Regions from separate parts of the Homo sapiens genome. Here region 1 is linked to region 2. Evidence: fine-mapped expression QTL. A gene starts in region 2. The other region holds a variant in brackets. All regions are shown on one strand. Distances are from middle to middle.

Region 1 (8,921 bases), 100 kb before region 2:
GGGACATCGAGGCGTACGAGGCCAGCATAGCTCCTGGCTGGGCCACTGCTGTCCATTCCATCTGGCTCCTCCCAGTCCCACAACCTCCTCCCTCTCCAGCCTCCACACCTGCGCCCACATTACCTCATCCTTCCCTGCCTACCCTTTCTCCCCACTCTTTCTGGAATCACTGTGCTCTTTGGCCTCTAGGCCTGGGCATGTGCAGGCTGTTACCTATTGCTCCAAGCAGGAAAGAATGCTCTTTTCCCTTCTGCTTTCTTAAAGATTCCTGTTCTTCTTTAGACAGCTGGCTCAGAGAGTGCCTTCCCTTACAAGCCTTCCAAGATTCCCATGAGAAAGTATCCATTCCTCTCTCCCAGCACTTATCACATTCCCATGATTAATTTTTTAAAAATCTGCCTACTTTCTCTACTAGTCAGTGGGCCCCTGGAGGGTGGGCACTGAGTCCTAATTATTTTTTTGTCCTTCCTAAATACCTGCACAATGATTAGCTCAGAGTAGGCACTTCATTATTTATTAAATGGGCTAATAGAAATCTACAGGCTGAAATTGAACTTCCTCCACCACGGCTCCCCCAGCCCCTGCAGCCTGGCTCTTCCCGCTGCCTCTGGCCTGCAGCATGTTATCTGCCTCGCTCCTCTGCTGCTCTGTCACACGCTGTATTATGGAGGATCATACACTGTGGCTTATATCGTTGCAAACTTCGTGGGCAGGTCCTTTTCCGACTGGAACGGGAGCCTCTGGAGGGCAGGACGAGTGGGCCACGCTTGTTTATATCAGCACACACCCGGCACGTGGTGTTCAGCTGGTAAAGACCTCCTGATCTCACACGGGCCGGCAGCTGCTGGGAGCTGGGGAGCTTCCTGTGGGATACTGGGGGTTTCCATAGCAGCTGTGTATCGGATAATTTACATGAAAATACCAGGTTTTTGAAGGCGGGTGCTTAGCAAATGTTGGCTAAATGGGTGCAGCCTCAGAGGGGAAAATGTTCTGAGTTGCTTTAAGCTGGCTATTTAATTATTCTGAAGGAAAACTGTCTTAAGACTTAGTGGGCTGTGAGCCTGTGGCAAACACAGCTCTGCAAAGCAGCACTTTCAGTCACCTGGGTGCTCTGGCCATCTGCTGGGGCTGTGTTCTTATCCCCCCGCCTTTCCAGAGTCTGACTCTGACATGCTGAATTTCTTATCATTCATGGGACAGATGAGGCTTCGTTACTTGCCTAGCAGCCACGAAACCCTAACAAGATCTGGAAAGAGTCAGTCTCAGGGGTCCACGGGTCTGGGCGGTTCATGGTGGGGCCTCCGCACAGATTTGTCCTGTGTTCCCCAGTGGGGCCCAGAGGCAGGTGGAGGTGGGTGTGGCAGGGCAGCAGTGCAGATGTGCTGGCCGGTCCCACCCTCTGAACTGGGAAGAGCTAATGAGGAGAGGAAAGGTTGAGGCGCCTGGGGACACAGGCACGTGGTGAGGCAAATGTTCCAAGGACAGCCACAGCCAGGACTCAGACACAGCGGTGGGGACTGGGAGTGTGGAGTGTGGAGTAAAGACAGCCCTGCAGCGACTGCCTTCTTTTTTTCCCCCTCTTTTTATGATTCAGTTTGGCCATCTGTCTCTGGACAGGGGGAGGTCAGGTGGAAGGGACAACTGGGCTTGGCAGCTCATAAAAGTGAGGCATTCAGCATGGAGAACACCCAGTCTCTTCATCAAGATTAACTTGCCCAAGGAATAGTATATGTCAGAGTGTTACAATTTCCATAAGAAAGCGGGAGAAAGACCGTATAGGGATCTGCTGATGTGTCTCCAGAGCACACAGGAAACTCAAGTAAGAGTTTGCCTCTGGAGAAGAGAACTGCATGAGTGGGAAACAGGGGTAGGAAGGAGATTTTTTCATTGTATGCCTTTTTGTTCCTTTTAGATTTTGAAATTACCCAAATGTATTGATGTGTGTGTGTGTAAAACCCAACACCCAAAGTCCCTGAGAAAACCTTTCTGAAAGAGTAAGCAAAGCTTAAAGTTTATTGCAAGAATCAAGTTTTGCTTGCAGAATAAACACAGAAAACCATTTCATTCAGAGCACAGAAATGAAAAAGGTGCTTATAGGAAGGAAAGAAGGAAGAAAGAAGGAAGGATGGAGGGAGGGATGGAGGGAGGATGAAAGGAAAAAGGGAGAGAGGGCAGAAGGAAAGAGGAAGGGAAGGAGGGACGAAGGAAGGAAGGAAGCAATGAAAAAGGAAGGAAGGAGGGACGGGGGAAGGAGGGAGGAGGGAGGAGAAGAAGGAAAGAGGAAGGAAGGATGGGAGGAAGGAAGGAAGGAAAGGAGGCAGGGTCGGGGGTAGGGAGGAAGAAAGTGGCACTCATCCGCATACAGCTGCTACATGTACGATGCTTGCCCCTGGCTCTGCTCGACCAACACATACTCTACTATCCTACTAATCAAACAAAAAAGCCAAGAAAGTTATGCTCACCCGGTTATTCTCAAATAATTCCAAGATGAAGGTAATAGCACTGCTGTTGATGCCGATGAACAGATTAGCACAAGATAAAGCCACATAGGCTGTGCTGGGGACATCAAACAGGAAGGATGCTGGGTACATCATGGGAATGACCGCCCATCTGTGTGAAATGAGACAACTCAGAGTGATGGAGTTCCACATTCCATTCCACCTACAATACGTCTGGATATAATGCACTCCCCTTACACCTGAGGTGATGTGTGTGAACTGGCCAGAGTCCCAGGGGACCAGAGAGATACTCCATTTGTTGGTCTCTGTGCCTCAACTTTAAATGGAGATAATGATGCCTGCCTTGACCACTTCATGGGGTTTTGTGAGGAGCAAATGGGCTGCTAGCTGTGTATATACTCTGTAAACTACAAAGCCCTGTACAATTCATAGGAGGGTTCTCCAGCCTGCAACACCTCCCACTCTAGCCTGGGTCAGCAAAGCCCAGCTGAGGTCATCTCAGATGAGCCCAGTGAGCTCATCTTCACAGCTTATAGTCAGGTTGGTTCCCAAATTCTCTATTTCCAAGAGAAAGATGTGGAGAACAATGCTTTGGCAAGGCTCTACTGGCCCACAGAGGAAGGACCAGGATCACTATTTTCTTTTACAGATGAGGAAACTGAGGCCGAGATGGATGAATTACTCATTCAAATTTACACACGTGGGAAAGAAAGTTGCATGCTGGGCCCTGTAACTCTGCTGATGTAACCCCTGTGTCATCCTCTGTCCCTGACTCAGGAGGAGCTTTTTGGCCGGAGTCTTCTACTGTGGGCGGTAACTCTTGGCCAGTTCACATGGGGACACTGAGGTGGACAGATTGGCCACAGATGAGTGAGAGTCAGAGCTGGGTGAGGGGTTGGGGAATGGCTGCCCCCAGGCTTTGGTCAAGGCCTCAGTTTGAGTAGGAGATTCAGATCATGTGGGACTTCTCTCATTGTCACTGACAGGACCAGGCCTCAGAGATACCTCTGTCAGTGGAGTCAGAATCAGAAGCCAGACAGATCCCTGGTTATCAGCTTCAGACCCTACCTGGGGCCGGAAGCTAAACTTGTGGGTGCTACCACCACAGGACAGCCCAGGTTTTCTGTCAGGAGATGATCCCCCACCCCCACCACCAGGCTTCTCTTCAGAGGCATTAGCTAATGGCCCAAACGGCTTACCCATACAGCAGGAGCAGTGCCACAAGGGCAGGAAGGTTTTCTGGAGAAGTGTAGGCTTTCTTCTGAAACCCGATGAAGATGCCCACCACCAGCCCAGCACTCACGGAATAATTCATCTCGGAAAGAGAAGAGGAGAGCAAGTCACTTAACCTCTCAGACCTGCTGCCAGCTCTGCAAAATGAGGGGTGGGGCCAGGCTCCTCCAGCTCGTAGGGTCTGGGATTCTGATTCGACTTGCTTTTTAAACAGTTCTTGGTTGGCAAACATATGTTAAGCTGTCACTAGTCCTCCTACCCCACCCCATGCCCTACCTCCCTGCCAAGGGAACCTTTAGTTTGTATCTTTTGAAAGGATCAATTACAAAATTCTGCCTGGTCTCTCACTCTTTCTATTTGGTCATAAAGTTTTGTTGATTCTTCTTTCTAAGCATGTCTTCAGAATTCAGAAAAACTTAAAGCCTAGTTCTTGGCTTCACAAAGCTCAAATAAATAATGATACCCTTTTTAAACAATTTAGTCCTACAGCCACTATACTGGGCACAGAAAGGGGACGGCAACAGTGGGGTTAGGGGAGGAGCCATGGTGATCAGGAGCAGGGCAAGAACCAGAGA[C/T]GGGCTTCCTCAGGGGGCAACCTGCCGTGGGGTGTGGAGGCCTCAACGGGATGAGAAAGATATCCTTACAGGAGGCTGATCTGGTGCAGGGTATCAGAGCCAGAGCAGAACGAGGAGGACCTGCATGCAGCAGAGGCAGCTGGAGCAGGGAGAGGACGGCATCCACATGGGGAGGGGATGGTGGCAGAGTTGGGCACTGTTCAGGTGTATAGGTCCGGTAGATAAATGAGTTGGGAGTGAGAGAAGCCAGCGTCTCACTGTTGGAGAAGGGAGTTACAGATGTGGAAAGAAAAAAAACTAGAATGAGCCCTGTGGAGTTGGTTTTGGAGAGCTCATAGTGTTCACTGTATAGGTAGATAGAGAACTATAGATAGAGGTGTGTGCATACCTGTGTGTGTACATCCATATCTTCCCTAGTTCTATCACTGAGAAGGCCTGGGACCAATGGTGCTCCAGAGGCAATGAACATATCTAGCACTCAGACCTTGGCTTCTGAGGGCCACTTCCCACTGGCAGGAACCAGGGCTTCTTGGGGAGAGGGTAGGAATGGGGATAATGGAAGGATGAGCCTGGAATATCTTGCTGTGCCATTGAGCATGGAGGAGGTCCAGGGGCATGAGGACCCAAGTCAAGACGATACAGAAGCCAGCTTCAACGGCCCCCCACTGACCACAGTGGGGATAATGTGAATATCAAAATAAATAATGATAGTCTTGGATCATAGTCCATTGATTAACACATGAACCATGACTGCATACAGAGATAAATAAATGGATGAATAAATGGAAAATTGTATAATGAATAGGATATTTATATATCTTTGAAGTGCCTCTACCTGAAATTTGTATTTATTATAAAGGGGAAAAGAGTAATTTTACAGTGAAGAAGCTCAGCAGACACCTTCTTAAGTGACCGAATTGAACATCATCAGTAACAGAGCAAATTGAAATCAGAAGCCACCTGATAGGATGCAGTGAGAACACAGCATCTGTTTGCTGATACTGCTGCCAAGATGCACACCCTCAACCTGGGCAAGAGGAAACCTCAGACAAGCTCAGACCAAGGGACATTCTGCAAAATAACCAGCCTGCAGTCCTCAAAGTGTCAAGACCATGAGTGTTAACAAAAGACTGTGGAACTCTTCCAGGCTGAACGAGACTAAAGAAACAGCACAATCAAATGTCATGCATGATTCTGAGCTAGATCCTTTTTTCTGAAAGACATCACTGGGGCAATGGGCGAAAGAGGAGTGGGGTGTGAGGATTAGGTGGTGATGACACATCAGTGCTGGTTTCCTCATGTTGACAGTTTGTGTTGTGGTTGTATGGGGTGTATCCTCGTTTGTAGGAAGTATACATCGGACGTGCTGAGGGGTGTGAGAGAGAGAGACAGGAAGAGAGAAATAAATGAGAAGGGGCATCTTGCTGAGAAGTTACTTTCAAATGACTAAGAAAAAAAGGTTTCAACTGTACTTGTGACTTTTCCATAAGTCTGTAACTGTTGCAAAATTTTAAAGTAAAGAAAAATAGATGACACATATAAGAATTTAAAACATCATATATGTGCTAAGTGAATTACATAAGCAATAATTGTTTGTTCCTTCATTCAACTTTTTTTTTGCCACTGGCTAATGGTGGTCCTAAGTTCCAAAATGATGGATCGCGGAGGTGAGATTCCAGGCCAGCTTTAAAATTCTGGAGCATCAGAAAGCCTGCTAACATGATGCCTACCATCTTCTACCCCTTCATTGGACTGCCAGCTAGTATCACCTCCCACCTCAGATGTCCACTCTATCCTAGCTACATCTCTCTCCATAGGCTCAGAGATCCCTGTAAGCGCACACGCGCGTGCGTGCACACATACACACACACAGAAACACGTGGGCCAGCCCCAAGTGTGTAAATTCTATTTCTTATCTTTTAAAAAAAGTAAAATTAAAAGCCTCCGCACTTTTCTAAGTAACTTTTCGGTACCGGTGGGCCTAGCTCCTTTTATATTAGCATCACAGGGCCAATGTGGTACCTGCAGTTGATGCTCTTATCCAAAGAAAGGCTTTCAGGTTCTGACCTCCTCCCCGTGCATTTATGAGTGTTTCCTCGTGTAGACAGAAGAGAGAGGAAATAATTTAGTTGCTACTGATAATCTCTGGTTTTGTATTGTTAAGTGATAGCTGCTTACTAAGCTGAGTAAGATAGAAATCATATCTTCAGGAATTCCAATATTCACCATCATTTTAAAAAACCATGGATGAGAAGGTCATTTGTGTTGGTCTCCATCAGTTGGTATATCTTATCATCACATGAAATGGAGGCTCATGTTGGTCTTAAAATGTTGAGATTTTACTACTCAAGACACCTAGAATAAATTGGGGTTGATGTCATAATGATCCCTGTTACATTATAACTAGGCCTTTACTACCAATTCCTTTGACCCTGCAGCCTGTAATAGGGTACGCTATCCTGACCCCTCCCTACCCCCACCAACCTTGGTTGTCAGGAAGGTGGTAGTGTGCTATTGATTTAATAAATATTTTTTCTTCATTTTTCCCTGTAGCGGTGGTTAATCTAATAAGTGAAGGTCTTATTATTTTGGCCACTGGCTGGGGTTGCCAGATTTGGCAAATAAAAATCTAGGATGCCTAGTGAAATTTGAGTTTCAGATAAACAACCAGGTTTTTTTTTTTTTTTTTTTTTTTTTTAGTGTAGATATGTCCTGTGCAATATTTGAAGTAGCATATGCTTATACTAAAAATTATTCATCATCTGAAATTAAATTTAACTGGGTGTCCTGTATTTATCTGGTGACCCTACCACAGGGAAAGTTTTACCTTTACCCTTTTGAAGGTGGGGCAGGATTTGAGAAGGGGACTTGGGGTGAAAGACCCCTTCATATTACCTTCTCAGCGCCAGACTGATGCCAGGAAGGCCAGACTCATGCCTGCGGTGCAGTGATTATTTGATGGGTCAGAAGACCCCTCAGTGCAGGACATAGAGAGCCCCCGTTCACCAGTTGTTAAGCTGCACCCCACAGCCTTTCCTAGCTTCGGGCTCCTAGTTCTGTGCCTTTCTGAGAAGATGTCAAGGGACAGCAGATACACAAGGCCCTTGGCCCAGTGCCTTTCAGCAGCCCTGGCACCGTGAGAACCCCTCCCCTCTTGGTCTGGTCCTTCAGAGCACACACAAGCTCCACCTTGGGCCCACGGAGGGGAGGGAGGCGCTGTAAACTGACACTTACGATGTCCCAGAGGAAGTTGGTCACCCAGTAGGTGGTGGGGCTCACTCCACTGATAAACTGGAGGTGCTTGGATTTGTTCACCCGCTCCTGGATCAAATAAAGGACAAAGCTGGCTGGGACGAAGGACATGGAGAAAATCACGCAGATGGCAACCACAGCATCCACTGAAGTGGTCAGCCTGCAGCAGGGCCAGAGACACAGGGAGAGGGCGATGAAGAGGGAAGAGCAGAAGGAGGAGAAGATACAAAGTCAGGCTTTGGGAAGGCCTTACACCCGCCCAGGTGTGGCCTCCAGGTTCCTCTTCTCTACCTTGAAGCTGTCACTCCACTAAACTGTCTTAATCCATATGGACCAAGGTTAAATGGGTATTTGCGGGTTGCCTTTCTATTTCATGTGAATATTTCTAGACAACCTTTCTTTTTATTATATTCTCTAATTATTTTTATGGTGTATAGAAATAGATGTTTATATTAATCTTATGTACTGCAATGCTCTCATTAGCTCTAATAATCTGTCTATAGAGTCTCTTGAATTTTCTATGTTGACAGACATACGGTCTGTGAGATTTATCTTTTGTTAATAATCATCTTGTTAAATCACATTTTCAAGAAGTACATCGTAACACAAGGAAATGTTCATGATGTAAATTTAAGTGAAAAGAGGGCAGGCAAGTTGTACAGGGACTTGGCTCTATTTATTCTTTCCTCGGACAAATAGAAGGCATCTGGCTGAGGGGTAAGTTGGGGCTAAAGCCAGCCTGAACTTTATGTACAAGCCATAACCCCTGGCATGGGACAGTGTCCACCTGCAGAAAAGAGCATTTTTACTAATTTCCACAAAGGTATCCTATGTGGTAGTCACTACCTTGATAAAACTACAGATCATATCATCCATACACGTAGTAAGCTTAGAACAAATGACTGGAAGGAGACACACGAAAGTGTGGCTGAGTGAGAATTAACAGAGGACAGTCTAGGGCCCTAGGGTGTCCAGAGGAAGACACCAAGGAGCCAAGGCCCAGGTTTTAGTGGATGACCCTGGGCATGTTCACTGGCACTCAGCGTGTGCTAGGATAGTAAAATCAGGACCCCACAACGTTGCTGAAGTTTGCACTAACAAAGGTGCTCCTACCAACCCCTCCTCCATGTAGGCCTCAAATAGAGTGAACATACTACAAAACGCACAAGGCCACTGTCTCCACTGGCTGAAACTGTGCAAGAAGAGCCTCAGCTTGAGGGTAGCAAAGCTCTGTCGACATCTCCAAAGTATGCTCTTCTGAGGAAATTCCTGGAATCTAAGATAATTACTCCGAGGGAGCTGAAAGGTTTACTGAACTTTGCCAGTTCCTGGCAGCTGCTTTGCACATAGCAAAGATAATAATTGTATAAGCTCCAGGAGCAACTTGCTATCAAAAGCCAAA
Region 2 (10,392 bases):
TCACCCCTGTTGATTAGGTCAGCACTTCTCATGTGGCTGCAGGCTGAAAACATGCCGGGGTCTCAGATCATACCCCAGATCAACTACATCAGAATCTTGGGGCATGGGACATCAGGGTTCTTCTTTTTAACACGTCTCAGGTAGTTCCACCGTGCAGCCAAGGTTGAGAACCGCTGCTCTAGGTAATGGTTGGTTGGTAATCTTTGAAAAATATTTGTTGAGAGGTCACTGTTGTTCTAACTCTGTGAGAGTGTGTTTGTTTTTGGCGGGGGGCGGGGGCGGTTGCTGCATTTCACGCGTCACTCCCTGGTCAAAGACCACCAGCCATTCTTTTCCTAGCCTGACAGGTCTGGTTTTCACAATAGCCTCTTCTGCCGGCTTCCAAAATCATGCTCAGCTTCCCCTCCCCAGAGCGGCATCCCTGTCCTTGACGCTTAACTGCGTACAGGCATACCCCAGGGAGAAATTCCACAGTATAATTAAAAACATGTTTTCTCAGCAGCTCAGACTCCCCCTACCCTGCCCTTTACACATGTCTGTAACTTTAATTAAGCCCAGCCAAGGCTCAGAAGGGCTGGTGGAAAATTCTTTTTTCCCAAACTGGTATTTCCTTCTTTTTTTCTTTTTCTTTTCTTTTCTTTTCCCCTTCCCTCCCTCCCTCCTTTCTTTCTTTCTCTTTCTTTCTTTCTTTCTTTCTTTCTTTCTTTCTTTCTTTCTTTCTTTCTTTCTTTCCTTTTCTTTCTTTCTTCTTCTTTCCTTTCTTTCCTTTCTCTCTCTCTTCCTCTCTCTCTCTCTCCCTCTCACCTCCCCTCCTCTCTTTACCATTCAATCAACATGGGGAGGAGGGGTTTCTGGCAAGGGCACAGTTGTGCTTGTTGTTTTAGAACTGAGCCTGTTAAATTTTCTTCCTTCCTGCTCTGTTTTCAATTTAACAGAAGGCAGCCAAGGCCTAAAATGAGCCCCATGATTCTTCCTTCTGCACTGAGAACCAGGACAGAATTCTTAGCCTGGACAAACATGACCCGGAGCCTGGGTACACTGGAGTTGGTGCCCAGCCTCTCTTTACTTGCCACATCCTCGGCTTGATGCTGAACCCAGGACAAAGGCCACAGCTGTCCCAGGTGCTCCAGGGTGTGGTGTCCAAAACATGATTAGCGCCCCACTTTCATGAGTCCTCAGGCCCCCCCACAGATATCCATCCTAACCCAGAAGCTGGGATGAAGGGATGACACCAAGAGACCCACCTAGTGATCTTCATAAACCCTCCCTGACACAGCGCCAGGTCCACAGCCAACACGGGCAGATGTATACTTGTCTTGTGCAGTGGAGAGAGCGCTCGTCATTGGGAATGCACGTTATCAGGATGAACTCCTTGGGAAGTCTTCTCTCACCCTCTCCAGCCCCGGTGCCTCCTCTGAGCTCACAGACCTCCTCCTCACCTCCCATCCGTGTTTCCTTCTACTCCACGGTCTCCACGTTGTGCTGCACAGTAATTATACGTGGGAGCCGCCCCTGCCTGGTTCTGAACTCCATGAAGGCAGTGGCTGTGTCTAGCTTACCTTGGTATAGGGCAAACACACGTCCCAGTTTTCCAGGTCCAGTGTTGGTTTACATTTATTGTCCCAGTGCAATTATTAATAGTGCTCCCTTTCACTTGCAAAACTGCCCTGATTGGATGATAAATTATATGGCCACTCTATCTTAGTGATATCAGTGACCAGACTATTGGATAGATCTCGATCCACGGGGGTCAGTGTGGTGTAACGGCCATGCCTGCCTGTCCTGGGTCACGCAGCATGGGTGTGAATCCCAGGTCCAACCCCACCAGTTACTAATCCTTCTCTGGAGCCTCAGTGACCTCATCAGTACCGGGGGGATCACAGAGAGGCCTCTCTCGTGGAACTGTTCGGAGAGTTCAGGGAGGTGATGCACTTAGTACAGTGCCAGACACTTAGTAACACTTGACAAATGTTAACAGAGGAAGAAAAAAAGAGGGAGGAAAGCAGAGATCTGAAGATTTTCATCTTATGCCCTTAGGGATTGGGAGCTGAGGAATGAGGAAATTTGGTATCTGATTTTACTCTTGCTCTGCTTACAGGAGACATGGAGGTTTGAGGGAAAACCTGGGAGCTGAATTATGGGCTGGGTGGTTGTACTTTTCTTAGAGGGACCATCTTCTAGAGGCAGAAGTTTCCAGAAGAACCGCAAGCTTAGGAAGGAGCCACAGATCCCTCTCAGAGCTACTGAATCTGTTGGGGGTGCCTCTGTCTTACCCAGACATCCTGGAAGCTCCTGGAATGTGGTAGCAGGTGGGGAGCCATCGGGAGGCGTGCCAGACAGAAATCTCAATTTCCAGGCCATCAGGATGGCATCCAGTGAACGCCAGCCCAGACCAGGCCCAGCCCTGGGAGGTGCCCTGGCCAAGGCCCTCAGCCCGAGTGGCTCCATCTCCCTGGGAGCACACTGTGGAGAAGGCAGAGTCCCTGAGCAGGAGTCGCCCACCCATGCCAGCGAAAGGCCAGATTGAGAGGGAGGGCACCAGAGCATTCTGAAAACAGGGTTATTCTCTGTCACAGCGACATGAGCGCCACAGGAATGGGCTCATTTTAGGCCAGCAGCTACAGTCCTGTTATCATGTGACCCCCTTTGAGGGTCACAAAGAGCACAGTGAGAATAAAATGAACTGAGAATTGTAATTTCTTATGGGAAAGAGAGAACAATGGCATATTGGATTTTCCTCCGCAGTCCACAGATGCCTCACATAGGCAGGGGCTGGGAGGTCTTGTTGCCATTGTATACCAATGAACCTAGCACGGTGCCTGGAGATTATTTTTTGATAGAAGGAAAGAATGAATACATGAAAAAATTTAATCATGAGGTTTTTTTTTCCAGTTTTATCAGGATTTTCATGCAAGAAGGGAAGCTCCTAGAAGAAAGGACTGAGTTTCTGATTACTCTTAATACTTGGCCCCTGGAGACAACAGATAACTTCAGCACCAGGCTTGACAGAGGAAAGTGACCTGAGGACAATGGTGCTTCCCAGACAAGTCAGGTTTAACTTGTCTCTTCCCCCTGCAGCCTCCCTGCGTCCTGGGCCAGCCACACACAGGTTTTGGAGCCATCCATGCGCATGGTTGAAGCGTGTCCCATGCTGCTCTCTTTTATGCTGGTTGTTAAGCTATTGTCCCTCGGCCCCACATGCACCAACCTGCCAGGGCTTTCTCCTCAGGGGTCCAGACCCGAGGTCAGGTTCAGAGATCCAGCAGCAGCCTCCATGCACGCCTTCCTCCCAAGTCCTAATGTCAGCTCCACAGACCTCTCATCTATGCTCCAAGTCTTAATAATTCCTGTCTCTTCCCTTGGTTCTCTCAGCCCTAGGGGTGGGAGCTGTGTCCTGCAATTGCTACCTCCATGATACCTTAGAGTTTCCTTTTACTCTCTCAGGTACCAGCTCTGTACTTAGCTAACACCTTTTCATATTAAACTCTAAGGAGACCCTAACTGAGACACTCATTCATAGGCCTTCACCTGTTCCAGTTGGCCCCATCACCTACATGAACTTATTCTGAACCGAGATTTGGAACAAATACTGTTCTCTTCTCGCCTAAAGCAGGTCTCCCTCCCTTTCCTCCTGATCTCTCCAGTGGCTTGCAGCTCCCAGGGTCCTAATCTCACCCCTACCCAGCCCCCATCCCTTATCCCCTCCTTCCTCTTTCAGCTCCTTTAGTCATCGGCATTTGCACAACTCTGCAAGGCTGTAGCAAAGTGCATTCTTTCTTTACAGTTCTATAGTCACTCCTTATCCTTTCCCAGAAAAAATTGCACAAAGCCAGTTGTCATTTACAAGTACAGTCTTGGTGTTCTCTGATCTCCGGCACCTTTTGCTCGCACTTCTCATGGACTATTCCACCTATGCTACTTTATGTTGCTCTTGGTCTCCAAACGTACTTTGGGTTTTCCCAGGCAGAACAGAAGCCAGTCCAGGGTGGAATCTGTGTCGTGCTTTTAGGGCTCCAGTCTAACCCAGGCTGGTGTCTGCTCATTGAAAGAGTTCAGGAAATGTGCGTGATGGTTAATAACGTATTGCATCTCACAGAATCTAGGACGCAGTCAATTGTAAGACACACTGTTACTTTTCTGCACCACTAAGAAAGAAAAATAATGTGTCCAGTTAAACTGTGACTTGATCGTGAGCTGCATCCCAATTTCAGAAATGCTAACATGTGAAAAAACAATGTGCCTCAGAGAATCAATGAAATAAGGCCTCACTAAGCTGGGAAGCTGTTCGAGGGGGTTCTTGCTTGCCTTTGGCCTGCTCTTCAGGGCTTAAAGTTCTTCCCACTGCTCAGCGTGGATGCCCTAGAGAGCGGTAGACTGGACAGGCAGGTGTAAAACGGGGGGTGGGGGAGGGGCGGGCAGGCAATGGATTGACAGGCACGGTAGGCAAAAGATTTTCATGTGGCTGAGGACAGAGAAACACATCTTCCTGGGAAGGGCACTGTCAGAGGGGCCCACAGAAAGGCCGTCCAGCTAAACACTGCTTCAGTGCTAATCGGCGACAAGCCCACTGACTGCTCACAACCCCCCACCCTGCCCCACCACCCTACCCCACCACCCCACCCCACACTTCCAACCTGTTTATTTGCTCCACACCTCATTTTTAAACCACAGACAGTAACTGTTACCTTTTGCCTTTTCCGCAGGGTCCAGTTCTTCCAGAGCAAAAGCTGTATCTGTCTCACGAAGCCCATGCTAATGACCACACGAAGACCAGATTGGTCAGAGCTGAGGCCCCTCAGACAGCAAAGGACATAAACGCCGTTAAGAGCGCCTCTGGCTCCGGACGCTGTGTCCTTCTCCTGGTGATTAAAGGCTACTTTTCCCCTTCAAAGCATAATCCCTTTTAATTACACATAAGCCCTTAGTTGGGGAGAGGAGGCCGACACTGTGTTGGCTCCCTTTTATGGAGAGAAAGAGAACCCTAAAGACACAAGTGGCTGGGCACCAGGGAAATTGAGGTGGGGGATGCAATGGGAAACCAAGACCCTCAGGCACTCTCCTCCATGAGAGGGGTTCCTGAGGGGGATGTCTTTAGGTATCTTTGACCTTAAGTTTGGAACAAAATCTCTTTGCATAAATATAGGCTGGGCATTTGTCCTCGGCAAGAGCCTGCCATGAGCCGGCAGTCAGGGTTTGACTGGCCCTTTAAGTCCAATCGACTCACTCGGCAGATCTGAAGTGATCCCTCCCTCTTTTAGTCTTTTATCTTGCTCCGTAATGACTGAAGTCATTATGGTCAGCTAGTTGGGTTATCTCTGAGCTTAGCAGAGGGTAATGATGTTTATCTCTTGTGCTGAAATTGATCGACTAGTAGTGGCTGCTTGGTGCTGTGATGGAAAAGGCACTGGAACACTCCAGGCCCAGCAGGACAGAGCCGTGACTGACTTGCAATGTCTGACTGGGGTGCGGGTATGAGGAGAGGCAGCAGGTGGGCCCATTACTGTCATTCCAGCCCTGCAATGGGGTGGTGCTGGGTTGACTCATCACCAGGTGGGGGATCTGTGATCCCAAGGGACACCCCAAACAGAAGCCTCCCTGGCACTTCGCAGTGGAACTTTTTGTCTCTGCCTCCTCAAATCTCAGAATGTGTTCTCTTTGAAAGACTCTAGACCCTTGAGACCTGGATGGGGCGGAGGGAGAACCACAGAGAGGAATGGATGCTGACTTCATAGAGTTTGCGGTCTGGTTGTAAACACGGGACTTGAACTCGAATAACTCAAGGAGTGTGATGAGGGCCCATAGGCTGTGCATGGTGGAGCTTCCAAGAAGAGAGAGATAGTTTCTGCTTATGATGGCAAAAAGGCTCCTTGGAGGTGATGGCATTTAAGACAAGCTTGCAGAATTACAAAATAATATTTTATAGTAAGTTTATTATTTATAAACTGCTTTTGCATATGTTATTTCATTTTAGCCTCACTACAATTTTGTGAGGTCCATATTTGCTGTTTTACAGATGAGGAACGTGAAGCTTAGTGAGATTAAGTACTTTGCTCACGGTCCCACATGGCAACGGTGGGTACTTGAACAAGTGAGTCATTTAAACTCTGCAAAGACAGGGAGGAATAGCTTATCTTGCCCAGGAAAACCACAAGTGAAACATGGCTGGAGTGAAGGCTATGAGGCTATGAATGGAGGATGCTGGAAAAGGAGACAGGAACCAGACTGAAAAATTGATGATGATGATGATGATGATGATGATGATGATGATGATGACTGATTCAACTGAGATTTACTGAGCACCTGTGAAGTGACTGGAGTGGCCCACAAGTGCAGGCTACCCCCAAGCAAGCTCTGGCAGAATCATTAAGACCTTGTTACATGCTAAAGGATATGGGTTTTATCATGCTGAAGATGATGAAAGATTTTAATCCAGTGGCTGCCAAGAGTAGTCAGTTCACCTCGGCAGCAATGTGGGGGTGGTTTGGGGGGAGCCAGAGAGCCTGAACCATGCAGTGACAGCCATGATGGAGAGAAGGGGAGGGACTGGAGGGATAGGAAGGAATGAGACACAGCAGTGCCTGATGAGTTACTGGAAGAGGGTGGTGAGGAAGAGGCAGAAGTCAGCTAGATGGAGTTTGGGGCTTGACTGGCTGGCTAGTGAGACGGTGGTGCTCATAACTGAGGAGGGAATGCCAGAGGAAGGCCAGTGGGGAGTAGGAGGCAGTTGGGGGGAACAGGGGTTTGCATTTGATATACTGAAGCTGAAGTTCTATGACATCTGACCACACGTATTCAGCAGGCAGTTGAATACTTGGGTCTGGAGTCAAGAATAAGCTTGTGAGATGGAGACATAGATTTGTGAGTGGTCAACATATAGGTGGAAGATTAAGTCCCGGGAGTGATTAAACAGGTGACCCAGGAAAGAGAAGCTTGGAGAGTATATGAGGTTGCTGAAGGGGAGCCACAGCTGGTGAAGGAATATGCCTCCTTCCAATTCCCAAAGACATCAGCTATATAAGTAATGTTCTGTCATAGTTTCAAAATGGTCCATTCTTCCTTGAGCTAGAAAGTTAAACTATGAGCACTTTGTTAATATTCAATTGATGATGCTCTAATAGTATTATTCGCATCTAACCAGTTTCCTTGCCTGAACAAATCTGTTTGTTGAGATTGACACACACATGAAATAAAATGTATCATTTGAACCTTATTTTAAGTGTACAGTTGAGTAGTGTTGATACATTCATATTGTGCAGCCATCAGCACCATCCATCTTCAGAACTTTTTCATTTTGCAAAACTGAAACTCTGTATCCATTAAACACTAACTCCCCAGAGTTCCCTCCCCCTAGCCCCTGCCAACCACTCTATTTTCTGTCTCAATGAACTTGACTACTCTTGGTACCCCATCTAAGTGGAATCATAGAAAAGCATAATCTTTAAAGTTCATCTATGTTGTAGCAAGCCATCTTAATCTGTTTGAGCTGCTATAACAAAATACCATAAACTGGGTGGTTTATAAACAACAGGAACTTATTTCTCACAGCTTTGCAGGCTGGGAAGTCCAAGATCAAGGTGCCAATAGATTTGGTGTCTGGTGAGGGCCTATTTCCTGACATGTAGATGGTAACTTCTTGGTGTGACCTCATCCAGTGGAAGGGAAAAGGGGTCTCTCTTGGGCTTCTTTTTATGAGGGCACTAGTCCCATTCACGAGGGTTGTACCCTCATGACCTAATCACCTCCACAAAGCCTCACCTCCTAATACCATCACCTTGGGGGTTAGGATTTCAATTTATGAATTTTAGAGGAACACATAATTTAGACCATAGCAGATGTGTCAGAATTTCTTTTTTTGTTTTTTTTGTTTTTTTTTTTTTTGAGATGCAGTTTCACTCTTGTTGCCCAGGCTGGAGTGTGATGGTGCAATCTCAGCTCATTGCAACCTCTGCTTCCTGTTCAAGCGATTCTCCTGCCTCAGCCTACTGAGTACCTGGGATTACAGGCAGGCGCCACCATGCTTGGCTAATTTTTTTTTTTGTATTTTAAGTAGATATGAGGTTTCTCCATGTTGGTCAGGCTGGTCTCAAACTCCCAACCTCAGGTGATCTGCCTGCCTTGGCCTCCCAAAGTGCTGGTATTACAGGTGTGAGCCACCGTGCCCGGCCAGAATTTCTTTCCTTTTTAAGGTCAATTAATATCCTATTGTCAGTATAGACCTCATTTTGTTTATCCATTCGTCCATCCAGGGTCATTCGGGTTGTTTCCACCTTTTGGCTATTGTGAGTAATGCTGCTATGAACATAGGTGTACAAATATTTGAGATTCTGCTTTCAATTCTTTGGGGTATATACCTAGGAGTGAAACTGCTGAATCAAATGGTATAACTGTTTATTTTTTGAAGAACTACCATACTATTTCCCTTAGCAGCTGCACCATTGTACTTTCCAATCAGCAGTGCACAATGGTTCCAGCTTTTCCACATCCTGGCCAACACTTGTTATGCTCTGTTTTTCTTCTTATCACCACCATCCTAAAGGGTGTGAGATGGTATTTCACTGTGGTTTTGATTTGCATGTCCCTAATGATTAATGATGTTAAGGACATTTAACTCTTTTTTACTCTTTCAATATTATAGATATTTGGTAGGATTTTTCTCCCAAGGTAACTCCAGTTGTTTAAAAATTATGTCAAACTAAAAGCTGTGTTTAGTTTTTTCATATATTTCTGAGGATATACCTAGTGAGTCAAAAATGATACTGATAACTGTACATTTCATTCTCATAGTTATCACCATTAATACACATTGATCAGGGTGAATATGAAATTGATGTGGTCCTGGCAGTAGTTTTGAGCTACGACCCTGCACATAGATTAAGAGTTGTGGTGTTAAGCGATAGACCATATCAATTCACATTTACATTCAGAATTATAAACAAGTCAAGGAAAATGGTGAAGTTTTAAAGATCTTCTCACTTCTATTCCTGAGGGTTGAACTAGGAAGAGGCATTCTGCTACTTACATCAGTTATTCTGCAAACAAAAATTCAGTAGTGGAGAGAAGTAATTTATAACTTTTTACAGTTTCTATTTGGAAGAAAAGCTATGGAAAAATATATAGACTAAATTACTTTGAAATTACTGTAATTTTGGAGTGGAGATAAATTTGATAATGAAACCAATACCAAAAGATCACCATCAATTCACTTGCAACAAGCTGAAGAAAATAGAATGTCCCCAAATATATCATTAGACATATGTTTATTTCAAACAGTGATTACAGGTGGAATGAGAAGACATTATGAATCTATGTCACAAGCATAAAGGCAGTTTTGGGACATCATAATGTAAGATGAAAAATATCTGATTTTTAAATTTGATTTTATTTCTACCAAACTCAAAACTAAATCATTGTACAATTAAAACTTGAAACTCCAGTCATCATGAATAACATGTTTCCTCAGCTTACGCAATAATATTTCATGAGATGATAGTGCAAAAAATAAATAAATAAGGCTCAGTTTATGAAAGTTACACATAGAAAAAACTCCAAGGCTGAGTGGAAGCTGCCAGCAGGTTGACTGCCTGGCTCACAAAGATTTGCTCTTTTCTAGGAGTGACTCCAACACCAAGGGAAGAGTCTGCAGTAGGCTTGTTAATGCCAAAGTGGACTGGTCATGTGCAGTCACATGATCTTAGCTGGGCCAGTCAGGGCCTATTCACAGAAATTTGGGGCATGGATCTGTGAGAAGCATGGGTTAATCATTACAGAAGTACAGAAGTGTTGAGAAATTAGAGGCCATGCTGGGTCACTAGGTTCAGTTTGTGTACGTAGGGGCCTAAGCAAAGACTGGGGACTGGATTTCACTTGTTTTTGCTAAACAAGCCCGGGACCCTGGTATAGGGCTGCATCCTATCAAAGGAGGTACCTTTTTCCTTTCACAAAGGCGTCTTCTGCTCACCAAACTATACAACCACGAGGCTGCATCCACCCAGAGGAGCACCTTTTCTAATTTGCATAAAAATGCCATATAGGCTAGCAGAGGACCTGAGGCTGTGTTCCCCACCACTAGGAGAAATCTGATCTGCAGTAACAGAGAATGAAGGGAATGCACAGAGAGGCCGAGGTAGAGAGCATAGGTCCCAGTTGTAGCTGAGTCCCTGGTTCCAGCTGTCCCTGGGAGACAGCTGTTCCCTCCTCTTCAGGCAGATTAGCAGTAAGACACTCCAATCCTTTCAATAAAACCTCCTTTTGCCTAAATTAGTTCAAATTTGGCTTCCATAGTATATGAATAAAATTCCTGGGTAGGTCCATGATTGCAATAATAATATAAGTATTATAAATACTAACATAATCCAATGGAGTTGCAGCAGAATTTAAAGAAGAGAGGTACTG

Direction of the effects. Alleles are on the strand shown, and positions count from the first base shown. SD is a standard deviation of normalised expression in the study named.
With allele C in place of T in region 1, the expression in testis of the gene that starts at base 4,854 in region 2 is higher (moderate effect, 0.43 SD a copy in GTEx).

Evidence for each region.
Region 1: its variant is fine-mapped to the expression of ABCA4 in testis (GTEx, PIP above 0.99).

What each region holds. Positions count from the first base shown.
Region 1 is chr1:94,012,081-94,021,001 of GRCh38, forward strand. ABCA4 (ATP binding cassette subfamily A member 4) reads right to left here. Exons shown (of 50, transcript NM_000350.3): 36 at 7,502-7,679; 37 at 3,659-3,774; 38 at 2,463-2,610. Among named protein-coding and RNA genes, the nearest start is that of ABCA4, 100 kb to the right of the region's middle. RefSeq lists an enhancer at 8,666-8,921. The variant C/T (reference allele first, on the strand shown) is at 4,268.
Region 2 is chr1:94,116,295-94,126,686 of GRCh38, forward strand. It overlaps ABCA4 (ATP binding cassette subfamily A member 4), which reads right to left and starts at 4,854. Exons shown (of 50, transcript NM_000350.3): 1 at 4,686-4,854. The coding sequence starts at 4,751.